Linked DNA regions of Homo sapiens. The protein of the gene in region 2 purifies or fractionates together with the protein of the main gene of each other region. This does not show direct contact. Each region holds a gene or a part of one and is shown on either strand. Other genes may lie near its edges. The genes, in order: PITRM1, LNP1 and NDUFAF5.

Region 1 (3,654 bases), on a different chromosome or scaffold from region 2:
GCTTCCACAGACAGGCCTTTTCCTAAAGTGGATGAAGGGAGTCAAATAGGCCAGGTGGGAAATCAAGGAAGGAGTGGGCGTGTTCCCAGGGGCTGTGGTGGGAGAAGTCACGACCATCTCGTGTGGGTCCTCCAGGAGAAACCCAGCGCCACTCGGGTGGCTGGGGCGCCGTCAGCCGGGACTAGCGAGGCTGGAGTCAGACCCTGGGGGACGGAGTCTCCACCAGCACCGGCAGGGATGGCGTTCCATCCGTCCACACATTATCCTTCCTGAGAAATTTCTATTACTTGTATATTAAAAACATGCTCACTTTTGAAAGATTATAAAATACAAAACACAAGGAAAAAAAGATCTGGAATCCCACTGCCCAGGGGGAACCTCCACATTTTTAGTGTTTTCTGTCTACATTTTCCTGTTGGATAGTGGAAACAGACACCACTCTTCTGCCGGCATAGCAGACAGATCTGTTCATCTTCTACAAATATGGAAATAAATGAACAAAACAGCTGACCACATACTTCTACAGCCAGCTCTTTCTGGGCCCCCACTGCAGCCCCACGTTTCTTCCCGCCTGCCTCCTACACACCTCCCCATCTGTGACCCTCTGTGACACACGTGCACCTCGGAGGCCCGGCTCCTTCTCCAATCAGGACAGGCTGCCCAGGCCTAAGCCTGCCTTCCCCCTCTCTACCAGGCTCACTCCTTGGTTTAGTCCCTCATGGGGGTAGCTGCCTGGGACAAGGACACAGGAAGTGAATTTCCGGGATATAACATGTTTGCACATATCTGTGTCATACACACCCAACTGACGGGTCCCCAAAGGTGCACGTCTGTGAGTCTGTCCTGGTCTGGCCAGTTTCCCCAGATGGGATGAACACAGCCAAGGGGCAGCCAGAGTTCGGAAGAAGGGGCTGGAGGGCCAGTCTGTAGGCTGCAAACTCCCTCGCCCCACGCCACTTTGGGAACAGGCCTGACCCTGACTCTTGGCTGTGGCTTCGGCTGCTCAACCCAGGGCCTCCTTCCCTGAGCTTCTGACTTGGTGGGGAGACAGGGGAGACAAACTCCTTAGAGGGACTGTGAGGCGGCCTCCAGCCCTGCCATCTGCAGGGCTCTGCAGGACCACCTGGTTTCTCCCCACTGCCCTGTCCCTCTGTGGCCCCAGGTCAGGCACCCCCCACCCACCCAGAGTCTGGCTCACGAGGTTCTCCTGCAGCCCCCATGGCTCTCCGGGTCACCTCCCACTCTTTCCCTTGTAGCTTCGTGTCTTGATCTGCCTTTGCTGTCATTCACGCATCTGTCCTCATGAAGGCTTAACCTACCATGTTTATCAGAAATCTCAGCCTAAATTCATTCGATTTTTACCTAGAGATGAGGTGAGTACATGGGGCATGTTGAAAGCAGTCTGTGTTTAAGGTCATAGGTATCTGTATTGTTCATAGGACTCCTCAATAATAGAAATTGTTTACAAAAATGACTGGCTCTAAAACTGGGTCTCTGTTCACAAAGACTGCTGGTTAAAGAGGAGCACTCGTAGACTCACACAGCCCCAGGTCCAACACTCAGAGTCAGCACAGACTTTTCCTGTGCTAAAACACGCCCTGTGAACTCGAACAGCCTTGACAAGCTCTTCCGTAAGGCTCAGGCCTGAGAGGTCCCGACCTACACCCTCCTACCTGGCATGATCTGGGTCCGTGTAGGGGACAGTTCGGATGCATTCACCCACGTAATTCACCGGGAAGGGCATCAGGAAGTGAGTCTTCATCTGCCAGGGCTTGAAGGTGGGTTCCTGAGGGACACGGTATGGTCAGAGGCGGCTGTGCTGCCATGCACCGCCCACGGCACTGGGACTGGACCCACTCAGGGGTCAGAGGCGGCTGTGCTCCCACGCACTGCCCACGGCACTGGGACTGGAGCCATCTCAGGGGTCCCATCTCCGTGACACTCTGCAGCCAGGTGCTGGGGCGCGAGAGCAAGGCACTGCAGTTCCGTCACTCCACACAATTTCTCACTGTAAAACTGACATGAAGTCCTCCAATCTTGACGTGATGCCTTAACGTATACTGTTCAATTAAAAACATTTCATTCTACGCCGTTTATATCACAGTTACATATTTATATTTCATATCATATTATATCATAGGAATGTGTTAAATCACTCTACTCCACAAGGAACCAAACCAAACAGCATCAGCACCAGGCTGAGTCGCGGAAAGGATCTGTCAGACCGCTCCACTGGCATCGACTCAGCTCGGGAGCTACGTTCAAAGAAGGGTGAGTTGCCCGGGAGGAGACCACCCAGAGCAGTAGCCCTCTTCCTGGGCACAGGGAAGACGCACCCCATACCAGGGCCCTCCTCGGCACAGGAGGACACACCCCCACCAGGGCCTTCACTCAGTACTGTCTGAGAGAGAAAAGGCTCAGGGTGGCAGTGACAAAGGATGCACTGAACTCGCAACTCTAGGGACACGCCAGCCCCACAGACAGGCGGACGGAGGAACATTCGAACATCAGTGGCAGACACAGCCATGCAGGGAAGCACCCACCCGCTGGCAACCCGGATGGGCTGTGGTTCTTACCATGACCAGCTTCCTAATGACCTGGGAGCCATGGGGAACGTGGGCATCTCCACCAGAGCTGCTGGGCACAGGTTTCTGAAAATCAAGTTTCCAAGAGAAAAGAGAAAAATCCAGAACTCACTTGAAATATATAAGAAGTAACAGAGTTTATAAAATTCACACAGCTAATAACAAGTGTTAGGGCAGGTGTAAGTGTTTTAAATAATAAACGCTTAAAAAAAATAAAAATAGGCTGGGCAGAGTGGCTCATGCCTATAATGCCAGCACTTTGGAGGCTGAGGTGGGAGGATTGCTTGGGTCCAGGAGTCTGAGACCAGCCTGGGCAATGTAGTGAGCTCCCATCTCAACAAAAAATTTTTAAAAATTAGCTGGGCATGGTGGTGCACACCTGTAGCCCCAGCTACTTGGGAGGCTGAGATTGGAGGATCACTTGAGCCCAGGAGGTCACGGCTACAGCTAGTTGTAATGGCACCACTGCACTCCAGCCCGAGTGCCAGAGACAGACCCTGTCTCAAAATAACAAAAACTAAAAAAAGAAATAAAGTGAGTAAAAGAAATTAAGAAAATATTAAAATAAATTTTCAGACAGTCAAGGAAAAGGTAGCCTTGTTATATGGTACAAAGAAAATATTTTAACCTTTCTTTCTGCACTTTCTTGTCATTAATCTGTCAAATCAAGAGGACATTTAAGGTGAAAGGGTTGCAGGCAGAGGGGCCTGGAGCAGCAGGAGGCCACCTCCCAAAGGCTCCACTCCCAGGGGCCAACAGAGAGACCACATCCAGAATTGAACCAGGGATACGCAGACACCAACGGAGAAGACATGAGCGTCAACCTCCTCCACGGAGCAGCACGGCTTCTCTACTGACATCCATGAACTAGACTACAACTCTCTAAGTTAATCAAATTTACTAAGTTAGTTATCACCGACATCACTGTTCCATGTCAAATCCATGGATTCATGAGTCAAAGAAACAGCAGTGAACAGCCTTCAGGCTACGGTTTGGGCCATTCCTCTGCCAGCGTATTCCAGCCAAAGTCTGTTTTCCTATCAGACTACTCACTGCAAGGCACAGAAGT
Region 2 (3,654 bases):
CAAGGAATTCAAAACAGCTGTTTTAAAGAAGCTCAAAGAACTTCAGAAAATACAGAGAAACAAGTCAACAAAATTAGGAAAATAATAAATGGTCAGATGAGAAATTTACCAGATAAATTGAAATAATAAAATCAGACCAATTTTGGAGCTGAAAAATACAATGAATGTAAAAATGTAATAGAGAGCATCAAGAGCAGGATTGATCAATCAGAAAAAGAATCTGTAAACTTGAAGACAGGTTATATGAAAATATACAGAGGAGAAGAAAGGAAAAAGAGTGGAAAGGAATAAAGAAACTTTATAGGGTTTATGGGATAGTATCAAAAGAGCAAATACGCAAATTACCAGCATTCAAGAGGGAGTAGAGAAAGATAAGGGTGTAAAAGGCTTATTTAAAGCAGTAATAGCAGAAAACTTCCCAAACCTGGAGAAATATATAAATAGCCAGGTACAGGAAGGTCAAAGATTTGCAATTAGATTCAATCCAAATAAGACTATCACAAGACATATTATAATCAAACTCTACAGATCTAAGACAAAGACAGGATCCTAAAAGCAGCAAGACAAAAAAAGCAAGTAACATATACGGCAGTTCCAATATGCCTAGCAGCAGATTTCTCAACAGAAATCTTACAGGCCAGGGAAGAGTGGTATGATATAGTCAAAGTGCTAAAGGAAAAAAAAGACTGTCAATCAAGAATACTGTACTCAGCAAAACTGTCATTCAGAAATGAACATGAGATAAAGACTTTCCTAGTCACACAAAATCTGAGGGAGTTCATCACCACCAGACCTGTCTTACAAGAAATGCTAAAGGGTGTTCTTCAAGCTGAAAGGACACTAATGATAAACACAGAAACATCTGAAAGTATAAAACTCCCTGGCAAAAATACGTACATAGCTAAATTTAATTTATAATACTCTGATACTGTAATGGTAGCATTTAAATACTGTAATGAGGGTGTGTAAATCACGTATCTTTAGTAGGGCTAAAAGATAAAAGTATTAAAATTAATAACTACAGCAACTTGTTGATGGATATGCAATATAAAAATACTTAAATTGTGAAATTGAAAGCACAAAATATTGAGGAAAGGAAGTGGAGTTAAAGTGTAGTTTGCATGTGTATGTGTAAATAATCAAAGTTAACTTGTTATCAGTCTAAAATAACCTGTAATATCTATGTTTTTTGAAGCAAAAACCGACAATAGATACACTAAAAATAAAAATCAGCCAGGCGAAGTGGCTCATGCCTGTAATCCCAGCACTTTGGGAGGCTGAGGCAGGCGGATCATGAGGCCAGGAGTTTAAGACCAGCCTGGCCAACATGGCAAAACCCCGTCTCTACTAAAAATACAAAAATTAGCCAGGCATGGTGGCGGGCACCTGTAATTCCAGCTACTTGGGAGGCTGAGGCAGGAGAATCGCTTGAACCCGGGAGGCGGAGGTTGCAGTGAGCCGAGATCATGCCATTGCACTCCAGCCTGGGCAACAAGAGCAAGACTCCATCTCAAAAAATAAAAATAAAAAAATAAAAATCAAGCAATCAAAAACACCACCACAGACACATTTATAATGTTTAAACAAGTATCTGGGTATCCCATGGCCCAGTCAAATTGACACATGAAATTACCCATCACACCACCTATATTCTGGGCTCTGGCTGTACAAAATGAACAGTTTCTGTCCTCGTGGGGCTTACATCCTATTGAGGGGATCACACTATTTTTTTATTTTTCCCACAGACAAGTGTACACCTGAGAGGTTTTTTTTTTCTTGAGGCGGCATCTCACTCTGTCACCCAGGCTGGAGTATAATAGGGTAATCTCGGCTCACTGCAACCTCCGCCTCTGGGGTTCAAGCGATTCTCCTGCCTCAGCCTCCTGAGTAGCTGGGATTACAGGCATGTGCCACCATGCCCGGCTAATTTTTGTATTTTTAGTAGAGACAGGGTTTCACCATGTTGGTCAGCCTGATCTTGAACTCCTGACCTCAGGTGATCCACCCGCTTCGGCCTCCCAAAGTGTTGGGATTACAGGCACAAGCCACTGCACCCGGCCCACATAGGTAATTTCTAATAGTGCTAGGTGCTAATATCGTAGACCAAAGAAAGAGAAGAGGTGTATGAAGGGAGGCATGGGTGGGCAGAAATGTTGAACTTTATAGTGAAAGTGAAGAGGATTTAAAAGTCTTTCAGCTCAAGAGTGAAATTACAGTTATGCTATAGGAAGAGTAAATTGATATCAAGGTGCAGGGTGACACATAGAAGAGAGGCACTAGAGGCAGAGAAATTATCTGGGAAGCAAGCAAATATAGGATTTAGGCAAGATGAAGGAAATGAATAAAAGAGAAAAAAGAGGGGAATGTAATAGTATTAGGAGTTGAGGCCTTTGGGAAGTGATTAGATCATGAGGATGGAGCCCTTAAAAATAGGATGAGTGCCCCTATAAAAATGAGACTCCAGAGAACTTTCTTGCCCCTTTCCACTATTTGAGGACACAAACCAAATTTGCAGTCCTCAACCCAGAATAGGGCTCTTACAGAATTTGACCATGCTGGCACACTGATCTCAAACCCCCATCCTCAGGAATTGTGAGAAATAAATTTCTATAGTTTATTAGCTAAGTAGTTTTATGATATTTTTGTTATAGCAGCCTGTACTAAGATGGGAAGAAACTATTTATTGAGTATCTGTTATGTGTTATACATACTCTTAGGAGTTTTCACTTATATGAACTAAGAAGTGTCAGAATGGGTGAAAAAACTATAAGAAAGATATTACAACAAAGTTGAATTTGTTGAAGACTTCACAGCTGATTTTGTGTTTATGTGTGTATATAAATACAACAGCATAATCATTTGTGCTTGGGTAGGTAAGGATGAAAAAGAGAGAGGTCTAAAAAGGTCTATGGTTTCAAATATGAGTAACTGCTAAGGTAATAGTGGTATTATTAGAAAAAATGGATAACACAGGCTGGGTACAGTAGCTCATGCCTGTAATCCCAGCACTTTGAGAGGCCGAGGCGGGCGGATCACGAGGTCAGAAGATCGAGACCATCCTGGCTAACACGGTGAAACCCCGTCTCTACTAAAAATACAAAAAATTATCCAGGTGTGGTGGCGGGCGCCAGTAGTCCCAGCTACTCGGGAGGCTGAGACAAGAGAATCGCTTGAACCCAGGAGGCAGAGGTTGCAGTAAGCCGAGATCACACCACTGCACTCCAGCCTGGGCAACAGAGCGAAATTCCATCTTGGAAAAAAAAAAAAAAAAAGGATAACACAAAGAGAAAGAATGAGTGGGGAAAATGATGAGTTATATTTTTGACAAAAGTCAGGAATCCAAGCAAAACTGCTCAGTAAGTAGTAAGAAATATAGGGCTAGAGGTAAAAAGGGAAGCTATGCCAAAAGATATATAGACAGTGATTATCTGCACAGAAATGGTACCTGAAGCAATGAGATTTACTTTGGTTACTAATGGAGAGATTGAAGATAAAGAAGAAGACATATTCTAATAAATTCCTCACTTGAGGAATATCTAGAGCTGTGCTGTCCAATATGGTAGTCATTAGCCACATGATACTACTTAAATCAATTAAATAATGAAAACTGTAGTCTTTGTCACACTACATTTCAAGTGCTCAATAGCCACATGT
Region 3 (3,180 bases), on a different chromosome or scaffold from region 2:
CAGATTTAACTACAAAAATAATTTCACTAGTGTTATACACACTAAAATAAGTGTTTTCACTACAATCACTCACATTAAACAATAAGGGTCCTCAATTAGCTGTGTTTGATTTACTTAATTTTTTTAAACAAATGGAGCTTTTTTTGGGATAGCCAGAGTAGAGTAATCCTTAGCTCCACCCCACCATCCACATATAATTCCGTTGACATTAAATAAGCAAAAGTAATATTCTTGCTTGGAAAATTCAAATTTTACAGGAAGTTTAAAAAGTGAAAAGTACAAGTCTCCCTCCTAGTTTCTATACCCCTGACAGACATTCAAACAGAATGACACAGACACACCCAGTTCCTCAGTCCCCTTCCTCAGCAACAGCCACTTAACACTGAGATGTGTTCTTCAAAAACAAGTATTAGTGCACAAAAACACATGTCCTTTTGGAAATATAGACCCCTGGAATTTACCCATTCCTCCATCATCAGTTTGCACTTTAAAACACAGGGTTTTTGGTGGATTTTTCTTTAGATGAGGTCTCCTCTTTTGCCCAGGTTGGAGTGCCGTGGCACAGACAGCTCACTGCAGCCTTGAACTCCTGCCTGCCTCAGCCTCCCAAGTAGCTGGGACTACAGGCATGCGCCATTGCACCTGGCTAGCGCAGTTTGTTTTTTGTTGTTGTTCTCTCTCTTCAAGTTCTGAAAATTAAGCTAAAAAAAAAAAAAACCCCAAAAAACAAAACGCCAAATTCTACTTCACAGGTTTACTTTGTGTTAAAACAAAAAAGCTACCAAGCGTATCCCAGTTTCAAATATCGATGATTTTTCAAACTGAAGGGAACAATAATTTCTTTTTCTCCTACAAATCTTGGTTTTTAACTATAACTTAGTCTTTCAAAGGGCAAGTTTGTTATATAATTAGTTCAAAATGTAACTGAATATCTACTATGTGGAAAGTCCCATGTGCTACGTACAGGCTAACACACAGCCCCCACCCATGGACAGCTTGTTGCTAATACAGTAAAGGAGGGAAGGAAGGCAGAAGAGAGACTGAGAGGAGACAGAAGGAAATGCTATTATAGATCACTGAAGGCTGAAGATGAGGCTAGGGCAGTGCCCAGGTTAAATGGAAAAGACAGCGAACAGCTAACTGGAAACAAAACACTTAGCGCTCACTCCTGCTTGCTTCTCAGCCTTCTCCCTGCTTCCTCTATGTTCTTCTCACCTATCCTAAGCTGTCTGAGCTTGATTATCTCCAAATGATTTTGAACCCTCCTCGACAACAACAGGACTGTGAACTTGGATTAGGATAATAGTGCTTAAGCCCTGAAATTACAAAGGAAAGCTTAACAATAAACTGATGACTGTGCAGAGACTGTTACATGTGATTCTACTTCTGGTATTCTTTAAAATGTTTTCTTCTTCCCTAAGGTAGGGTGGGGTGTAAAACCATGGTGGTCCCACCCACACCATGGAGATAAAAAAGAAATAAGGTTAAATTCAGATGCTTTAAAAAAAAAGAGTTGAGGAGGGATTTAATAAAGATACATGCTCTTCTAAATTCTAAAACCACATAACTCTGGAGAAGGTGCATATTCATCTGTTCCTCTTCAAGGCAAAGAAAACAGTATGACAAATGAAAAAGGTGTAAAAGGTCAGCATGAGTAATATTTTCCAAGGCATTTACATATGTGAACATTATTTGCAAATATTTTAGGGAAATATTTTCTTTGCTTTTAGGCTGAATCTGCAAAGACACTCAGCAGTATCCTTATGAGAACAGAAACAATATGAAACTGAAATGGTTACTATAGATGTGATATTAGGTTTTCCTAATTATATGAAAAGCCTATTAGTAAATAGCTTAGAGTGCTTCTTGCTTCAAAATATAATAATTTTAGATGTTAAAGCTATCCATTTCTGATGAAAATTCTGGACGACATTAACACTGAATAAATATTTATTGTGATTTTTTCCCCGGTGGCATAAGGTTGTTTATTTTTCCTAGCTCTCCAAATGACACAGTTGCGGAACCTCTTTCAGCTGGTCTTGCCTGAAAATAATAAAGATTAAAGATATTAGAAATAGATAGATAATACACAGCCCCAATTAAAGCCCTTAATGCTGTCTTACATTACCCCTTCCCCCAAGTTAGTAAACAATAATCTGAACACGAACCCACTAAGAAAAGTGATCCATCTTAGTAACGTTACCTGTGACTCATGATATTTCCATCCTATCATGTAATAGATCTGGTATGTAGCAGGTACTGAACCATCTTCATTTCTGTACATTTCTAAAAAGACAATAATGGTTAAAGTCTGAAAAAATGCAAGTAGGAAAAAATTTCTGCTCAATAAAGGTCATGTTCTTCAAAAAGAAATGGGTACAAGGATACTTGTAAGATTCTGAGAACATCTTACATGAAAAATTCTTAATACTGAGGGTAAGGAAATAGTAAAGGCTGTCTGGAAAAAGCTACAGGATCTGTGTTTTGAGAGGAAGGACAAGAAGTCTGAGGGAGCCTTAACAGGAATGGAAAATGCATTGGCAACGTGAAGGGAATCAACATGATACAGCACAAGTGCCTTGGTGAGGCGGGTGAAAGAGTGGTCGCCCCTTACCTCTGTACACTGCCGCAGCTGCCAGCATTGTGTCTCGATGCAGCAGGGCTTTTCTATTCCAAGCACAGTTACTCTCACCCATACCTACAAATACACTACAGGTAGTTTGAGATAATACAGCAAACACCCTGAACAGCTCAATACCACAGACTTAATCCCGTCTCATCTAACAGTATACCTGTCCTCATTCTCTAAGGGTCATGTAAACCTAAATCTCATTTCACTTTCAGATTATAACTGGGTTTCTTAGTGACTCTAAAGCGAAACTACTTGAAACTTTTTCAACATTAAGACAGGCAAGTGAAATTTCAGGAGGCAGCTCCACAATGCTTTACTTGCCAGCAATGGTCTAAAGTAAGCCCGCTGGGCAAAAGCCAGGTGACTGCCACCCCAGGTGAGTTGTCAGCAATTGGCAAGAACTTTACCAAGGATGTCACATCTCATGCTTTTAGCTGCTCTTTGGAGGAGGACAGGTCAGTGCAACAATGCCTCACTCCTAAGCCATAATGCAAGTATGACTGTGAAACTTGGAAGACGGCTTTGAAACTCATTAGATAGTACCAAAG

The links.
Region 1: the proteins of LNP1 (region 2) and PITRM1 purify together in Homo sapiens (affinity purification with mass spectrometry; one large-scale study listed by BioGRID and IntAct). This does not show direct contact.
Region 3: the proteins of LNP1 (region 2) and NDUFAF5 purify together in Homo sapiens (affinity purification with mass spectrometry; one large-scale study listed by BioGRID and IntAct). This does not show direct contact.

What each region holds. Positions count from the first base shown.
Region 1 is NC_000010.11:3,141,716-3,145,369, forward strand, and holds part of PITRM1 (presequence protease, mitochondrial isoform 2 precursor), read right to left. Parts: exon of another isoform or gene 3,256-3,654; intron 2,652-3,255; coding exon 2,577-2,651; intron 2,272-2,576; exon of another isoform or gene 2,141-2,271; intron 2,061-2,140; exon of another isoform or gene 1,787-2,060; coding exon 1,674-1,786; intron 1,374-1,673; exon of another isoform or gene 1,257-1,373; intron 55-1,256; exon of another isoform or gene 1-54. UniProt on the Homo sapiens protein: Metalloendopeptidase of the mitochondrial matrix that functions in peptide cleavage and degradation rather than in protein processing. Has an ATP-independent activity. Specifically cleaves peptides in the range of 5 to 65 residues.
Region 2 is NC_000003.12:100,404,410-100,408,063, reverse strand, and holds part of LNP1 (leukemia NUP98 fusion partner 1), read right to left. Parts: intron 1-3,654.
Region 3 is NC_000020.11:13,815,981-13,819,160, reverse strand, and holds part of NDUFAF5 (arginine-hydroxylase NDUFAF5, mitochondrial), read right to left. Parts: intron 2,699-3,180; coding exon 2,615-2,698; intron 2,287-2,614; coding exon 2,204-2,286; exon of another isoform or gene 2,203-2,203; intron 2,044-2,202; coding exon 1,951-2,043; 3' UTR 1-1,950. UniProt on the Homo sapiens protein: Arginine hydroxylase that mediates hydroxylation of 'Arg-111' of NDUFS7 and is involved in the assembly of mitochondrial NADH:ubiquinone oxidoreductase complex (complex I, MT-ND1) at early stages. May also have methyltransferase activity.